Linked DNA regions of Homo sapiens: regions 1, 2 and 4 are each reported to be linked to region 3. The links are microRNA targets in miRTarBase. Many come from high-throughput screens and were not tested one by one. Region 3 holds a microRNA gene; each other region holds the end of a gene's coding sequence.
The links. The annotated mature microRNA hsa-miR-5008-5p reads UGAGGCCCUUGGGGCACAGUGG and lies in region 3 at 2,521-2,542, opposite strand. An mRNA with a match to its seed (bases 2 to 7 or 8) in the 3' UTR can be bound and repressed. Matches are read on the target gene's strand: a 7mer-m8 pairs with bases 2 to 8, a 7mer-A1 pairs with bases 2 to 7 and ends in A, and an 8mer does both.

Region 1 (4,208 bases), not on the chromosome of region 3:
TGGGCAGGGCACTCGGACCTGAGAGCTTCCTCCTTGAGGATGCCTCTCTCCCTCCCCCCTCTCTCTCCCTCCCCCTCTTTCTCCCTCCCCCTCTCTCTCCTTCCCCCTCTCTCCCTCCCCCTCCCCCCTCCTTCTCCCCCTCTCTCTCCCTCCCCCCTCCCTCCCCCGTCTCTCCCTCCCCTTCTCTGTCTCTCTCTCTCCATCTCCATCTGCCATCTGTCTCTCTTTGGTTGTCCATCTTCTCTCTCTGACTCTTCCCCCTTTGTCTGTCCCTCTCTCCCTGTCTCTCTGTCTGTCTTGGTCCCCCACTTTGACCGCTGCTCACTCTTCTCTCGGCAGGGGTCTGCTGGGCCGGCCGGGCTGGCGGGACTCAGAGCTGCTGCGGCAGTGCCGTGGCTCAGAGCAGGTGCTCTGGGGGCTGCCCTGCTCCTGGGTGCAGGTGCCCGCCCATGAGTGGGGACACGCAGAGGAGCTGGCCAAGGTGGTGCGCGGCCGCATCCTGCAGGAGCAGGCCCGCCTCGTGTGGGTGGAGTGCGGCAGCAGCAGAGGCTGCCCCAGCAGCAGTGAGGCCTGAGGCTCATCTGATACCTGCACCTTCTCCCCAAGCCAGCGTGGACCCTGGTGTCTATGGTGAAGCTGGGCCCTCCCACCCTGAGCCTTCCTAGACCCTTGGACTCTCAGATGCAGGGCCCTTGGCTCTGGCCTCTCACCCCCAAGGCTGTCTCTGGCCCTGCCGAGCCTATGGGAGTCCCGGGACAGAGTGCCCACTCCCCTCTACTTGCTGCTCTGGGCCTCCCCACCTTTCCTGGGGTCTCCACATTCCCACTAGTGGGTCTTATGTGTGTCTGTGTCTTCTCCTTAAACACTCGCCCTGGAGTCTGTTCTCACACCTGTGCGCAGGTTTGCACACTCAAGTTCTCATGGGCAGGCTCAGGTCTGTCCCGCTGCCCTGGGCACGAGGTCTCCTGAGGACCTGGGCCTGTTCTGCTCCTAGGAGACCTGAGCCCGTTACCGCGTGACTCCCACCATCCAGCTCGCGCTCCTCGTGGATTCAGCCATGCATGGACTGGGGTGTTCCCTGGCCCATGGTCACCTGTGCCCCTCGTGTCTCCTCACATGGGTGTCTGTGGTTCTCTCCTGTGTAAATGTCACGCCCCACCCCTGTTTCATGTGGGCACTAACACGTGTGCGTTCCTGGCGGGCACACTCAGGACCGTGCCTCACAGGGCCCACTCCCTGCCTATGCCTCCCTCTTGGGGGGCCGAGGAGGGCGGCTGCTCTGTCATGAGAATGTACGGCCCGTGGATGATTAACGGGCCTTTTTCACTTAGAAGCTGCACATTATGGAGCATTAAACACTTTTGTCATAGATGCTGGTGGCCTTCTGCTTGCTTGTATCCCTGGCCTGGGTCCCCATCACTCTCCTCATTTGTCTCCCAGCTCAGGCGGATACCACCTTTCAGGTCCCCGCTTGCCTGTCAGGAGGGTCGGATTTCCCGCCTGCCTCTTCCCAGAGCCGCCCGCCATCTGTGCTGGCGTCACCTTACCTGCCCCTGAATGACCAGAGGAGGGCCCCACAGATGGGCCACCCCAACGCTCAGCCCTGCCCACAGCTGATCATCAGAGGAGTGTCCCCTGGAGCAGGGCACCAAAACTGGCAGGGTGTGGCCTCCGACTGAAGGGGCCTGGCTGCTGAGCCCAGGAGCTCAAGAGCAAACCCTTGGTATGCACGCAGGTTCCTGAGACAGCTCTACTGGAGAGAGGATGGTTGCTCCCACTGGGAGCAATCCAGGCAGCCTTACTGGAAGAAGTGCCACTTGAGCTTGGGAGTTGGGATTCCTTTCTTCAGGAACCACTTATTGGACCTACGTGTCCAAGTGCAGGTGACTGTCCTCAGCCACAGTGATGAGGCTGGGCAGGTCCCTGGGGCTTGGGGTTGTGGGTGTACTAACTAGGTAGGGTAGCCTCAAGGGCGAAAGCTCAGAGGCAGCACATGGGTTGGATCTGGCCACCTTGGATGGGGTCGGAAATGAGGTTGGGAAGGGCAAGTCCAGGGGTGGGGTTGGGAGCGCAAAGGAGCTTGGGCTGTGCCCTGGAGGCTGTGGGAGCCTCTCAGGATGTGGGAGCAGGGCTATGGGAGCTCTGGTTTGGAGTTGACTTAGAGAGGGCTGAGGCCAATTGGAGTAGGGGGTGGGGGGCAGGGGCAGTGGAGGAGAGAGGAGCAGACAGGAAGGAGGGGATCTGTGGCCTCCAGGGGTGGGTCTGGATCTCCATGTTTGACAAGAAAAATGCTTAAGAAGGGGTCAGGGCTGGGGATTTGGGGTGGTGGGTGGAGAAGGGAATGGAGAAGCTGGGAGAGGGGATTGGGGTGTGGATCAGGGGGCCACAGCCCCATCTTTAGTGGGAAGAGACAAGGAGTGGGTGTAGGGGAGAGGTGGTGAGGGTCTCAGAGACTGGACCACGCAGGATGACGGTGCTTGGGTATGAGGCCAGGGTGGACGGTGGGCCCAGGCTGTCCCGGGAACCCAGAGAGGCTTTCCCAGGATGGAGTGCAGGGTGCGCAGGGCACTGTAGTTTGGTTGAAACCCAAAGCTCTGGTCAGCCAGGAGACCCTGGCAACTCGGGTGGCCTCTCTGGGCCCAGGGCCCTCCCCTGTGGAGTGGAGGCCCGGATGGTGGAGTGAGCATGGAGGTACGGATTGGCCACGGCTAGGTGAGCACGTGTGGCTGGGGCTGAGCCATTGCTTGGGAAAAGGTCTTCCCACTCTCTACGACAGGGTGTCTTTGACAAGGTGCAGATTGGACTTGGAGGCCTGCCAGTCTGTCACCACTGGGGTAGGGGCTGGGGAGCTGGACCCTGAGTGGCAAAGGCGGTGCCCTGGGGGAAGGGCAGCCTCCCTGCATGGGAATCAGCGGCAATGCCGCTTTCTACTCCAGGCCTTCCCAGGTGTTGACTCTCCCATCCCCCCAGCCACATCCTCCCCACCGCGGGCAGTGGCAGTGGCCTTTCAGTTTACCCTTAGCTGTGCTCCTCTGCTCATGTGGCCCCTGCCTGGGCTGCTCTCCCTGCCTGAATCTTCCTGATCTTTGAAGCCTGGCTGAGATATTACGTATCTCCATGAAACCCACCACCAGGTCCTCCCAGCCCTTGGGACTTCTCCTGGCCCATGCCATATTCTGCCTTGTGGTGGGACGAGGGTGTCTGTGTGGCTGTCTCTCGATGTCTGTGGCTTCCTGGGCATGGAAACTGGGCTGTGTGCATTTGGGTACATGAACCTCCCCCTGCCCCACAGTGAGCCTGGCCCAGTGCTTGGCCTGGGGAAAGGCAGGGGCCTGTGACTTGGCTGCCTTTGCCTGTTCCCCGTGTCAAGCATCCTTTCTGTGGGGTGGAGAAGCCCACTCATCCTGTAATCGTCACCAAGTCATATTTTTGTCCCCATTTTAGAAATGATGAAGGTAACTTTCCTAGAGTCATACAGCCAGTGAGTGGCCCAGTTGGGAATTTTTTTTTTTGAGATGGAGTTTCACTCTTGTTGCCTAGGCTGGAGTGCAATGGCGCCATCTCGGCTCACTGCAACCTCTGCCTCCCGGGTTCAAGTGATTCTCCTGCCTCAGCCTCCCTAGTAGCTGGGATTACAGGTGCCTGCCACAATGCCTAGCTAATTTTTGTATTTTTGGTAGAGACGGGGTTTCACCATGTTGGCCAGGCTGGTCTTGAACTCCTGACCTCAAGTGATCTGCCTGCCTTGGCCTCCCAAAGTGCTGGGAGTACAGGCGTGAGCCATGGCGCCCAGCCCCCAGTCAGGATTTAAACCTGGTCTGTGGGGTACAGAGTCTGGGATCATCACCAAGGCTGGCATCATCACCATTCTGAGAATATGGCCTGTGAAGGGGCCTGGCTGGGGGCTGGCCCATGAGAAGGTCATTCAAAGGGTTGGTTTTCCCTTCCTCTCCCCCAGCTGTCCTCATGCAGGGTTGAGCCCGGCAGGGCCACTTCCCTTTGCCAGCCACCTGGTACTTTGTTGTGTTGAATTAACATTGATTGAGTTCTTGTCTGCCGGTCACTGTTCTAGGCACTGGGGATTAGGGACTCAGTGATCAAAAAATAAATCCTGCCCTGATATTCTCATGAGGAGGACAGAAACTTAGTTAAACATACAGAATGTTGGAAGATGAAAAGTGTGATGAAGAAAACAGTGAAGTGGCTTG
Region 2 (4,169 bases), not on the chromosome of region 3:
CTGGTGACGCTGGTGGCGGCCGCGGTCTCCTACCTGCGGATGGAGCAGAAGCTGCGCCGGGGCGTGGCCCCGCGCCAGCCCCGCATCCCGCGGCCCCAGCACAAGGTGCGCGGTTACCGCTACTTGGAGGAGGACAACTCGGACGAGAGCGACGCGGAGGGCGAGCATGGGGACGGCGCGGAGGAGGAGGCGCCGCCCGCAGGGCCCAGGCCTGGCCCCGAGCCCGCTGGACTCGGCCGCCGGCCCTGCCCGTACGAACAGGCGCAGGGGGGAGACGGGCCGGAGGAGCAGTGAGGGGCCGCCTGGTCCCCGGACTCAGCCTCCCTCCTCGCCGGCCTCAGTTTACCACGTCTGAGGTCGGGGGGACCCCCTCCGAGTCCCGCGCTGTCTTCAAAGGCCCCTGTCTCCCCTCCCCCACGTTGGGGACGCCCCTCCCAGAGCCCAGGTCACCTCCGGGCTTCCGCAGCCCCCTCCAAGGCGGAGTGGAGCCTTGGGAACCCCTCGGCCAAGCACAGGGGTTCGAAAATACAGCTGAAACCCCGCGGGCCCTTAGCACGCGCCCCAGCGCCGGAGCACGGTCAGGGTCTTCTTGCGACCCGGCCCGCTCCAGATCCCCACAGCTCTCGGCCGCGGACCCGGGCCGCGTGTGAGCGCACTTTGCACCTCCTATCCCCAGGGTCCGCCGAGAGCCACGATTTTTTACAGAAAATGAGCAATAAAGAGATTTTGTACTGTCCTGACTGGGGAGTCCCAGGCCGCGGGGGACGGATGCACGGATGCCCTGGGATGCACGCACGGCTGGCCCGGCCTCTGGGCGCAGTGGTGACAGGCCCTGACCTAGGGGGACCGCGTGGTGTGGGGAGTGCCGCGCCCTACTGGGGGCGGGGCGAGGTGTCCGTAGGCCCCGCCCACCAGCCCTTCCTCCCTCCTGAGGCCCCGCCCCCCCATACCTGCCTGCCTTTGCCAGCCCCAGCCAGGAGAAGGGAGCGGCGGAGCGGCTGGCAGAGACAGAGGAGGGTGTGACGGCGTTGCTGGTCCCCCATGGGTCCAGAGGGCGAGACAGACTCCCGAGACACACCCTCCAGAGGCCTGTGTAGGCATCCTCCGCCCTCCAGCGACCACCCCCGCGTCGGACAGGGTCCACTTCCGAGCCACGGTGGGGTCACCCTGTGCCCAGTAGGGGCCTTGGAAGTGGTGGTTGGAGGCCAGGTACGCTCGGTGACTACCCTTTCCCGGCTACAGCCTCAGCTGCGATGCCCACGAGAAACAGGCTGGTGGAGGGGCAGACCCCCTACAAGGCCTGAAGGTGCCGTTCCTCCACCCGCTCCTCTTGTGGCCAGAGGAGAGGACACCCCCGCCATGAAGAGCTCTGAACGGTTGGGTGAGGACAAGTGGGGGCCGTGGGAGGGCCATGGAGCCCCCAGCTGCACCCCAGCAGGCCCGGGGCTGGCCCACACCATTCCTCACTCCCCACAGCCTCTTTACCCCTGACTTTGGCGAGACCCTCGTCCGTACCTCCAGGCTCCATGCCTGCCTCAGCATCGCTCTATGGATTCTCCCAGCCCTAAACTGGCCCCATCTCTCCTCTCTGCCCTCATGTGAGTTTGGTTCTTGAAGCCTCTAGTGGTCCCTGGGGCCAGACTCTGTGGCCTTGGACAGGGAGTCTGCCATCTGAGCCACAGGTTCCTTCTCTGTTGAGTGTGTGAGGGAACATGTTGGAGCCCTTAGTGTGGCGGCAGCAAGCGCACCAGGCCCTGTAAGAAACACAAAAGGGTGCGGCGGGAGACTTGACATTTTCTAAATCTGGGAGGGAACGCTGCCTGCCTCACGCCGACCTTCAGTGACAAGCAGACTCAGAAGCGGTCCCGAGGTGCCACCATAACCTGGGTGAAGGCCAGCACTGTGTGCTTCCAGTTCCCCCTCGGCATCTGTAGACTGAGTGTTCTCTGGAGGTGGCTGGCGACATCCTCTAGGCAGGCTCCAGCAAAACCAGTCGGAGTTGGGCAACCTGACGCTCAGATGATTCACCTCTGAATGGAGGGCAAGGTGATATTTGGAAGGGTGTGGGCCCCTGGGATGCTGGGCAAACGGGGAGCAGGTGCCTGGATAGTGGGCCTACAGCTCTTCCCAGTTCCGAGTCAATTCCAATGTCCATGGTGCCAAGGAACAGAGGCTGTGATGTTGAGCAGACTTGAAGGTGATCCAGGCACATGGAGTGGCCACTCAGGGGCTTGGCTCCTGGCTGTGCTCTTCCTATCTGGGCATTTCCCATGAGAAGGCTTCACAGGCCACCTGGCTGCTCCTGGCACACGGAGAATGCCCAGATGCTGACATGTGCCAGACAACACATATTTACACCTGATAGGCCACACACATGCAACATGCAAACACACGTGACGGGTAACACCTGTGACAGACACTACATGACAACACACATGCACACATGATGGGAAACACATATCACAGGCTGTGCGACGGGCAACACAGCGCAGGCAGTGCGACGGGCCCTGGCAGCAAGCTCAGCAGGCTGGCTCTTTTCGAGCAGGAGAAGAGCTCATTGTAAGAGATGACACTGGCGTAGGTGGCACCTCCCCTGTCTCCATCACCCCCGGATAAGGTGACTGGGTGGAGGTTCTGGACCCCTGAGTGGATAAGCAGGTTGTGTCATGGCCTCCGTGTCTGATTGCCACCCTCGCTCCCAAAGCAACTCTGTGATTTTGTCGATCTGCACTGTGGGGATTTTTCTTTTTCTTTCTCTTTTCTTTTCTTTTCTTTTTTTTTTTTTTTTTGCAACGGAGTTTCACTCTTGTTGCCCAGGCTGGAGTGCAATGGCATGATCTCAGCTCACTGCAACCTCCATCTCCTGGGTTCCAGCGATTCTCCTACCTCAGCTTCCCGAGTAGCGGGGATTACAGGCGCCCACCACCAAGCCAGGCAATTTTTTTTTTGTATTTTTAGTAGAGACGAAGTTTCACCATGTTGGCCAACCTGGTCTCAAACTCCTGACCTCAGGTGATCCACCTGCCTCGGCATCCCAAAGTGCTGGGATTATAGACGTGAGCCATCACGCCCAGCTGGGATTTTTCAATTATGTGATTCCAAGAATCTCCAGTCCAAGATTTTCCCTATCTTTAAGTTCTCAGTAGCAGGTTAGATAACCTGAGAAGTCTCCCTCTTCAAAACACCTAGAAATGCTGGGTAAGAAACAAATGTCCTTTTAACTATAGAGCTGAGGCCGGGCGTGGTGGCTCACGCCTGTAATTCCAGCACTTTGGGAGGCTGAGGCAGGCGGATCACCTGAGGCCAGGAGTTCAAGACCAGCCTGGCCAATGGTGAAACCCCATCTCTACTAAAAATACAAAAATCAGCCAGGAGTGGTGGCAGGCGCTTGTAATCTCAGCTACTTAGGAGGCTGAAGCAGGAGAATCGCTTAAACCCGGAAGGCAGAAGTTGCAGTGAGCCAAGATCACGCCATTACACTCTAGCCTGGGCAAAAGAGTGAAACTCCATCTCAAAAAATATATAAATAAAATAAAATAAATATATAGCTGAGTTCTTCAGAAAATAAGTTAAGTCCCCTAAGGCCAGAAGTGAAGAGGAGAGTGAGAACCAAGGTGGGGACAGAGGAGCTGGTGCTGCAACTGCCTGAGGGCAGGGCTGGGTTGAGCGTTGGTATCCCTTACAAGGCAGGGGGTTAGGGTTACAGTCAAGCATGATGAAGTTGGGGCCACAGAAATGCAACACCTTTAGAGAAAGGGACAGAAACATTTCCACCCAGGGGAACAGAGAGAGGTGAGAAATTTTGAGCTTTAGGTGGTGAACAAGTTTCCCATGAGATCGTTGCGTTTTCAGGCCTCTCTTATGTAAATGTGGAACTCCTACAATAAAGTCATGCCACCTGTGTGGTCTAGGAATGCCAGAGTTGAGAAATTAACACTAAAAAGTTGCTTTGGGCCGGGAGTGGTGGCTCACGCCTGTAATCCCAGCACTTCAGGAGGCTGAGGCAGGTGAATCACCTGAGGTCAGGAGTTCGAGACCAGCCTGGCCAACATGGTGAAACCCCGTCTCCACTAAAAATACAAAAAATTAGCCAAGCCTCGTGTGCCTGTAATCCCAGCTACTCTGGAGGCTGAGGCAGGAGAATAGCTTGAACCTGGGAGGCAGAGGTT
Region 3 (4,000 bases):
GGAAGACGTCTCAACACCCATACGTGGCTGCGGCTGCCATGCCACAGGGCACACAGAACAGTTCCACGCTGCAGATGGGGCCGCAGACAGTGCTGGTCTCAGGAACCACGGGGGAGGTGGCTCCAGGGAGCGGTGACCCGGTCGCCTCCTTGAGCCCTGGAAGCTGGCCGCGGTGGTCAGCACTGACCCCTGCAGAAGCTCCGTGGAGACCATTCCCCAGCCCCACAGGAGTGGAGCTTAGCACACATGGTGCTGAGTCTGGGGACGGCCCCCCGCTCCTCTGGCTAGGCCTGATGCTGCCATGTCCTGGCTGCTTGGGGATTGGGCCACCCTGGGAGGACCCACTCAAGACACCTTGCCCTGAGCCTGAGGGCAGCTAAACGGGCCTTGTCCCCAGAGAGAACCTGAAACACACAGGGACAGCCACCCCACACTGCCAGGTCCCTAAAGCCACAGGCTCCTTCCAGCTCCCAGCACAATAGACAGGAAGTCCTACGGAGGGAGCACACATCACCAAGGCCGGACTCCGACCTTCCTGCCTCCTGCCAGCAGGTCTAGCCACCCTGACCGGGACCCAGCTTTCTCCCCCAGGCTGGGGCAGAGGGAGAAGAGACTGCAGTTCCAGAAGCCACAACACCCCGCCAGCAAAACCTCAGTCCTGCCAGACAGCGTTTAATTTCTGTGTGAAACAAAATCAAAACAAATTCTAGCACTGAGAAACCGGGGCTGAGATCAACTCTCCACCCTCCCCGTGGTCTGCAAATCAACCCAGCCCGAGCCCAGCTTCCAGCCCAAGCACGTCTGCTGTGTCCCTCAGGGCTGCAACGCCACCAGGGCCCAGCTGCACCCAGGAGGTGGGGCACATGCCGCAAGGATGGCACGGGTGGCCTGTGCAGATGCCCAGGTGCCTGCCAGGTGAAGCATCCTCGGGCCTGAGAGAAACACCCCCCTCCACCCTGCTGAAAGCACCGTGTCCCATGGCAGCCCCTGGAATAAGCCCTGCCCTGTCTGTGTCTGCAGCATCCATGGGGTCCCCCAAACCAGACCACAGAGGCCAGCCCAGCTCCCCCAGGCTACTTGGGCTGACTGCCCTTTTCTGGGGCAGGGTCCTGGACCCCAGAAGGGGCATGGCTGGTCTGTGGGCTGCAAGACAGGCAACCAAGGCTGCACGCAGGACCCCCCGGGGGAAAGGTGAAGAGCAGAAGCTTCCAGGAGGCCTCTGTGCTCAGTGACCACAGCCCCCCATGGCCTTCCCAGACAGCCGCAGACCCACACAACTGGTCAGCAGGACAGGGAGAGCCACGCAACCTTCCAGTGGCCACCAGTGTCACCTCCCACACTGTCATCCCTTCTGGAGCTCACTCTCCTGTAGGTGTCACAGAGGGAGCATCCCAAAGTCCACCTGGCTCCCCTCCCCACCCCACAGTGACTCCAGGTCTGCAGCCTCTGTCCCCATCTGGCCAGGAGGGACGCCGGCCCTGACGTTCTCCAGCTCTGGGAGGCTCTGGCAGCAGCTCCTCCTGGGCCAGACCTCCAGCCCACTTCCCCTGGCTGCACTGACCTCAGGTATCGCTAAAAAAAACAAATGCAGCCTGCGGCTTGCCTTTTTCCATCGTCCCATCCGGCCACTGGTCCTGAGGTGCTGCAACTGCCAGCTGGACAGCTGGGCTTCCTCTGGCGGGCAGCGGCGCCCAGCCAGCCAGGACCATGCCGGGAGGGCAACAGGCTCCTGGGAGGGCCCAGGCTGCAGGTCACGGGGCCGGGGCGGCCCAGTGCCACCCAGGTCAGCAGGCACAGCAAGACCATCCCCAGCCACCTGCCACCCTGCCCGGCCTGGACCACGGATGTGCTTGAATATGACCCCTGAAGGAAAACCAGGGTCACGTCCCCGCCGGGGCTGCACTCTGCATGGCTGCTCTGGTGGGGCCATCAACACCTGGCCTATCGTCCACACACGGGAAGGTGCGGCAGCCTGGCAGCCAGGTCTGCACTGCACTACGTCTGGCCACAAGTGTAGACACAGCCCTGCCAGAGTCAGAGTCCTGTAGGACCCGGGGCTGGGCTGCCAGGTGAATGAGTGACACAGATCCACCTGGCAGGGAGAGCCTCAGGCTTGAGGGAGTCTTGGGATAGGAGGGCACACAGAATGCAGCTTGGAGAAGACCCCACAGGGACCCTTCTGGCCAATCCCAGAATTGAGCGACCAGGGAGAGAAGGATGCATCTGAGGAGAACACAAGGGGACCCTCCTGGCTGATCCCAGAGTTGAGCGACCAGGGAGAATAGAATGCATCTGAAGAGACCCCACGGGAACCCTCCTGGCTGACCCCAGAGTTGAGCAACCAGGGAGAGAAGGATGCATCTGAGGAGACTCCATGGGGACCCTCCTGGCAAACCCCAGAGTTGAGCATGCAGGGAGAGAAGGAGGCATCTGGGCAGTCACTGGGCTTCCTGCAAGAAGCAGCAGCTGGGGCCGACCTCAAGGGACAGGCGAGGCCCTGGGAGCACAGGGGAGATGGCACCACTGTGCCCCAAGGGCCTCACCTGACCCTAGGGGTCAGCCCCATCAGAGGTCAACTTCCAGCCAGAAGGCATGGGGTCTGGGGAACCCCCACTCGTGGCTGGCCTTCTGGGTTCTGGGGGCCTGGCTCAGTCCCCAGTCCCACAGACACTGCTGCGGGAGCCACCCTGGTCCCAGACAACTGCACCGGTCCTGACCCCGCCGCCCAGCACAATGCACAAAGGGAGCCCGTGCCGCAGCTGGGATCAGGTGGCGCGACCGAGGCCTGTCAACAGGTGTCGCTTTCCCGCAGCCCCCACCCTCCCACAGGCATCACCTCCTCCCTGCCCCAGGGTCCAGAGCCTCCAGGAGGTATCCGTGCCTGTGTGCTCTTTCCTAGGGGAAGAGTCACCCACACGCTTCTTTGATGGCCAAACCCCAGAGCAGGGCACCCCCAGCCCGGGCCACCCCAGCAGCCGGCGGAAGGTCCCAGGCCAGGGCAGGCACTGGGGCCCTCTGCAGCCTGCAGCAGGGCGGGAGCAAGATGAGGCCAGCTGTCTCCCCAACCAGACGTCCGCCGGCTGTGGACAGGACATCTGCTCCCTCAGCTGTGGCAGGCCAGGCACTGCTGCTCCGTCCTTACCACACACCCTCCACACCCTCCAGGGAGCCAGGACCCCCAAGCAGGTGGGGCAGGGAGAGGCTGGGGGTTCCAAGGCCCCTGGGTGCAGAGCAGGAAGGAGGAAGGCCACCAGCGCCTGCAGGGGCCATCAGGCTGACACTCCAGACCCTCCCACTTACGGCCCCACTGTCAGGGAAGCCAAGCACCTGGGTCCCTCTACTGGCCACGGGGTCCCAGTCCAGGAGTCCTGGAGAAATGCCCCGACTTTCCACTGGCCCTGTCCTCTCCTCTCCATGCTAAGAAGTCCCCAGGGAGTCCCCTGGCCCCCAGGGCCCCTCCTCTCAGCCCTCTGCTGAGGTCTGCCCCACTGAGCCACTTCCACGATCTCTCGAAACAAGGCAGCTCCCTGGCCCCTTTCCTCCCTGCCCTTCTGGCCCTCCAGAGCACTCTGTGTGGCCTTTCTTCCTGATGCCAGGCCCCACATGCTTCCTGGGGTGTCCTAAGTTGTTGGAGGGGGTGGGTCTCCAGGACAGTGCCTGCCCAAACCTAAGCCTGAGCTCTCAGCTGCTCCCAAACCCCCCGGCCCACAGTGCTCAGAGCACCCGACCCAGGCCCCAGCCATGGGGTCACCCCAGATGCCGCCTTCTTGCCAGCTCCTTCCCAGGCTTCTCTTGCCCAGCACACAGCCCCATGATTCCACACCTCAGGCCCACCCCTCCTTCTCCGGCCCTGCCAGGGACCCACAGGTGCCCCTCATCCAGGCAGCCAGCTGTGCCCCAGGCCTGATGCACAGAGAGGCAGAGCCATGGGACCAGGCAGGGTATGTCCTGCCCACAGCCAGCAGCCTCCCTCTTGGACCCTGCGGGGTCTGATGTTGGC
Region 4 (4,208 bases), not on the chromosome of region 3:
GGTCACAGGAGAGCTACCTGTCCCAGCCTCCATCCAACTCACCCAGACACTCCCTGCCTCCAGCACTTCCCAACTCTCCGGCTGGACCTCACCTTTCGGGATTTGTCAATGCGACAGAACTTCTGGACCACTTCCACAGGGACGGGGGCGGGGCCTGGGAATGGATCTTGGGTCTAGGGGAAAGGAGGACGCAATTAGCAGACAGCCTTGGATTGACCCCAACCCTCTCACTCTCAAGGAACGAGGCGGCCTGCCTCGCCACCCATCAGGTCCCACGCTCACCCCGGACAAGCCGCGCTGGGACTCCGGGTTCTTCCATTCTCGGGGTTTCTTCGGGACCTGAGGCTTCTTAGAGATCCGAGACTTCTTTAAGATGTAAGCATTTTTTGGTCTCTGAGGACGGAGCTCCCGATTCTTCTTGTTACGAGGAGGCCCTGGAGAGGCTCCGGCTGTGGTCGGAACGGTCTCTTCCTCCCAGTATCGCCGCGGTTTCTACAGGCACATCAGGAACTCCGCACTCACGCCCCGCCCCCCGACCCCACAGCTAAAAACTTCGTTTCCCACCCAGGGAGGCCTCTACCTTTCTCTTGGTCTGAAGTTTGTCTTTCTTGGGCGGGACATCCTTGCCCGGCTTGGGGGCTGTCTCCATCTCGCCCACCCGAACGGCGATCCACGTGCAAAACTCCTCTCAGCTGCCACACAGTCGGCTTGAAAACTCCCGGAAGCCCTCTGTCCTTCATCCAATCAGCAGCGTACCAGGTATGAAGCTCTCTAGGTGCCATCTTGAGTGAGGGCACGCTCTCCTTAGAGGGGCGGAACAGTTTTTGGCACCTTATCGCGAGCGGCAGCTTATGCAAGAGTGATTTAAAAAAGAAAGGCAGGTCCGGAGCCAGGGGCTAAGTAGCGGTGCGGTTTCTTTTTCTGGATTAGTTTCCCCATCTTGCCTAAAAATGTCCTAGTCTAGTCTTTTTAGCAGAACTCCACTCCCTAAACATGTCAGAACTACACTTCCCATCAAGGGTCAGAAAGAAACTTCCGGCACAGTCTTTTCCCAGCATTCCTTGTTTACTTCCGGGTTTATTACTACTGAAGGAAGAACGTGAGTAGGTTAGGATTTCGGTTGAGAGGCTTGGGGTCTTGCGTTTCGCCCACCATCTCCTGGGGACAGGGTGGAGTCGATATCCGGGACGGGGGGGAGGTTGCGGTGCCCCTCAGGGCTACCTCTCAAGAGTGCTATCATTTCCGCAGGCCAGATCAGAAAAGGGAGCTCAGGTACCTTCCAGAGAGTGAGACCCAGCGCCCTTGTCTCGCACCCAGTAGGCTTTCATCCCCGCCATGGCGGAGCTGATCCAGAAGAAGCTACAGGGAGAAGTGGAGAAATATCAACAGCTACAGAAGGGTAAGGGAACAGGGTCGGTATGGTCTCGCCCAATGCACTTACAACCCAAAGCCATTACCGAGATAAGGTTTGTTGCCCCATCTGGGCCCTCGCGTGCAGAGACTTCCCCGCCTCAGTCTCAGTACTCTTCCCTGTTCACTCACCCGCTGCCCCCATCCTTTTCTGCTTCCTCAGATCCATATCCACCTGACTAGGATTGTGGGGATAGGTGGCACATTTGATGTTTCTAAATTGCCTTTCCTCTCATCCCCAGACTTAAGTAAATCCATGTCGGGGAGGCAGAAACTTGAAGCACAACTAACAGAAAATAATATCGTGAAAGAGGTGAGGGACTGGGATTTGTGGGGCGAGGAGGGACCTGTACTAGCCATGGTTCTGATCACATATGTCCCATCCCTCCATCAGGAACTGGCCCTGCTGGATGGGTCCAACGTGGTCTTTAAACTTCTGGGTCCGGTGCTAGTCAAACAGGAGCTGGGGGAGGCTCGGGCCACAGTAGGGAAGAGGCTGGACTATATCACAGCTGAAATGTGAGTTTTTATTCCACCACCGTGTGCTGCACCCTGTGATGCAAGTGAACCATTGGAGTAGAGGTGTTGAACCATTGCAGAACAGCTCTCCATAGTGGCCCCTAGTCCTCCAGTTCCTCCAACCCTTTCCTTCCCTTTTAACCCCCCTTCTTCTCCCTCCCCTGGATCTCAAGTTTTCCACCTATCTCTTTCTTGCGTTTAGCACTCTCCATAGTGAGTCCTACTAATTTCTCCCTTTCTGCTTGTCTCCCTTGTCTCTCCTTAGTAAGCGATACGAATCCCAGCTTCGGGATCTTGAGCGGCAGTCAGAGCAACAGAGGGAGACCCTTGCTCAGCTGCAGCAGGAGTTCCAGCGGGCCCAGGCAGCAAAGGCAGGGGCTCCTGGCAAGGCCTGACCCCATGGTGGGGGGAGGGGAGGGGAGGGGAGGGAATGAGGCAGCTCTAGGATCTATACTGTAGCTAATAAAATGTAAAAACACCTGGCTCTGTTTCCTGACCAGGCACTTCTGTCATATCCCCACAGCCCCTTCCACCTTAACACACACCACCTGTATTACCCCCTCAGGTTCAAACTCTTGCACTTGGAATCTCTTTGTGGCACAGTGTTCTTTCTTGAAAGTGAAATCCTAAATGTCTTCAAACCTACTTCTTGCCTGTATATACAACCCTTAACTCTCCCTCATCTTGGTTGGCATGATTCTTTTGGAAGGGCATTTGCAACATACCATATTGCTAGGAATGTCGGTTTAATTGAAAAAGAATACACAGTTCTCTAACCTGAGGCCCCAGGATGAAATGTGGTTACCCTCCTTGCCAACAGCCCTGGCATCTCTATTAGTACTTTTCAGCCTCTGTCTTCCTAGAATTTGCTTGAATGTAGCTTTAAACTGACTTAAAATCCCAGCATGTAATGCTTTATGGTATTATAAGTCCTCCCAAGTTTATATGTTGTCCATAAAGTTGTTCTGCCATTTCCTTGTCCTAAAATTGTTTTATACACATTTGCAGCAAGGGACCAGTGGTAGAGAGGTTACTGGAGAGAAACTGTTCTGAGGAAACTTTTTTCACCAATACCTCACTTTTTGCTCTGTTCATGGGGACAGAAAACATTGTGCCCCTTCCTGTTCCATGGCATCTACCTTCAGCCAATTCCCCACCCCCACTCATAGCAGCCAGTTCATATGTACTGCAAGGACAGGGGAGTAGAATTCAGGTAGTGTTTTGGTTTATTATCTTAGTGTTGTCACAGTGATAGAAACCCCCAGAGTGGGAAGAAGAGCTCCTGCGAGGACCTACATTTTGCCATTCCCCTCTGCCCTGGGGCTCAGAGCCTTGAAGCCTTTGCTTGGCCCTTGCATGTTAGGATATGGCCAAGAATCAGAAACTGATGCGTTTTTCCAGCACTACCTGTGTGCTGCACTCATGGAAGGTGGGAAGCTATACACAGGTATCCAACTTGGTTATAAGACACCAGTTCCCACAGGGCTGGATTTCTCAGCTGTCTGGTAAACCAGTGGCACTTCACTGCCCCAGGGTGGCTGGCTCCCTTTCTGAATTTCTGTCTCAATGTGATATAATTGCCACCATTCAGGATGGCTACCCACATCTGGTATGAACACCATGACTTCTGTAAGCCAACGGGGCTTCCTCCTCAGAACAGTGCCCGTGCAATCTTCCTCCCTGTGGCCTTGATCCTGGGAAAGGAGCCCCCTCCTCCCTCACTCGGAGGAGTTCCTGAGGCAGACGGGCCACTGGTGACGCCAGGTGTAGCAGTAGAGGACCTTCGCCGCTGCCGCAGGAGGAAATCGTGTGAAGCTCCATCCATGGCGTAGAATACATTAGCCGAGGCTGGGATAGTCAGCTCTGAAGGTTCAGGGGATGGATGTAAAGCACACACACAGTTGTTCCCCCCACAGCCGCCCAGATGTGGAAGTACTCCACTCTCCTCCCGAGTCTGCCTTTCCCTCATGGCCTCTGACCTCGCTCCCCTGGTAGCAGCTGTACCAGCTCATACTCTGAAGCCACTGCAGAGTCACGATTGTTTTTCTTAAGGACACGACTGATGACACTTGGAGCCTTGTCCTGGCTTGTCACCTGGCAGAACAGGAGACCAAAAGAGCAATCAATCAGCCATGATTTCCCATCCTTCTACCCTCAGCCACTGAACCCAACCACAAAATGTTACTTGTGTCCAAGGCTTTAAAATGAACAGGAAAACCCAATATGGTGGCTTCCTATACCCCATAAGCCAGCCCACATGGTGCCCAGTGAAACAGAGC

Region 1: miRTarBase lists CARD10 as a target of hsa-miR-5008-5p. Seed matches in the 3' UTR shown: 7mer-m8 at 789-795.
Region 2: miRTarBase lists UNC93B1 as a target of hsa-miR-5008-5p. Seed matches in the 3' UTR shown: 7mer-A1 at 334-340.
Region 4: the mRNA of RGL2 is a reported target of hsa-miR-5008-5p. The part of its 3' UTR that is shown has no 7-base or 8-base seed match.

Annotation. Positions count from the first base shown.
Region 1 is chr22:37,487,525-37,491,732 of GRCh38, reverse strand. It overlaps CARD10 (caspase recruitment domain family member 10), which reads left to right. Exons shown (of 20, transcript NM_014550.4): 20 at 340-1,371. The coding sequence ends at 574. Among named protein-coding and RNA genes, the nearest start is that of MFNG, 3.2 kb to the right of the region's middle. RefSeq lists an enhancer at 3,947-4,208.
Region 2 is chr11:67,987,671-67,991,839 of GRCh38, reverse strand. UNC93B1 (unc-93B1 regulator of TLR signaling) reads left to right here. Exons shown (of 11, transcript NM_030930.4): 11 at 1-740. The coding sequence ends at 294. Among named protein-coding and RNA genes, the nearest start is that of UNC93B1, 14 kb to the left of the region's middle. RefSeq lists an enhancer at 3-608.
Region 3 is chr1:227,939,121-227,943,120 of GRCh38, forward strand. MIR5008 (microRNA 5008) reads right to left here and starts at 2,563; the gene lies at 2,470-2,563. The region is part of intron 1 of WNT9A (Wnt family member 9A); the gene reads right to left. RefSeq lists an enhancer at 3,010-3,912.
Region 4 is chr6:33,288,522-33,292,729 of GRCh38, forward strand. It overlaps RGL2 (ral guanine nucleotide dissociation stimulator like 2), which reads right to left. Exons shown (of 18, transcript NM_004761.5): 17 at 3,909-4,023; 18 at 3,133-3,792. The coding sequence ends at 3,581. WDR46 (WD repeat domain 46) reads right to left here and starts at 718. Exons shown (of 15, transcript NM_005452.6): 1 at 581-718; 2 at 283-492; 3 at 93-173. The coding sequence starts at 649. PFDN6 (prefoldin subunit 6) reads left to right here and starts at 1,080. Exons shown (of 4, transcript NM_001185181.3): 1 at 1,080-1,399; 2 at 1,653-1,723; 3 at 1,805-1,929; 4 at 2,195-2,412. The coding sequence starts at 1,336. The coding sequence ends at 2,324. MIR6834 (microRNA 6834) reads left to right here and starts at 1,724; the gene lies at 1,724-1,804. RefSeq lists an enhancer at 313-846.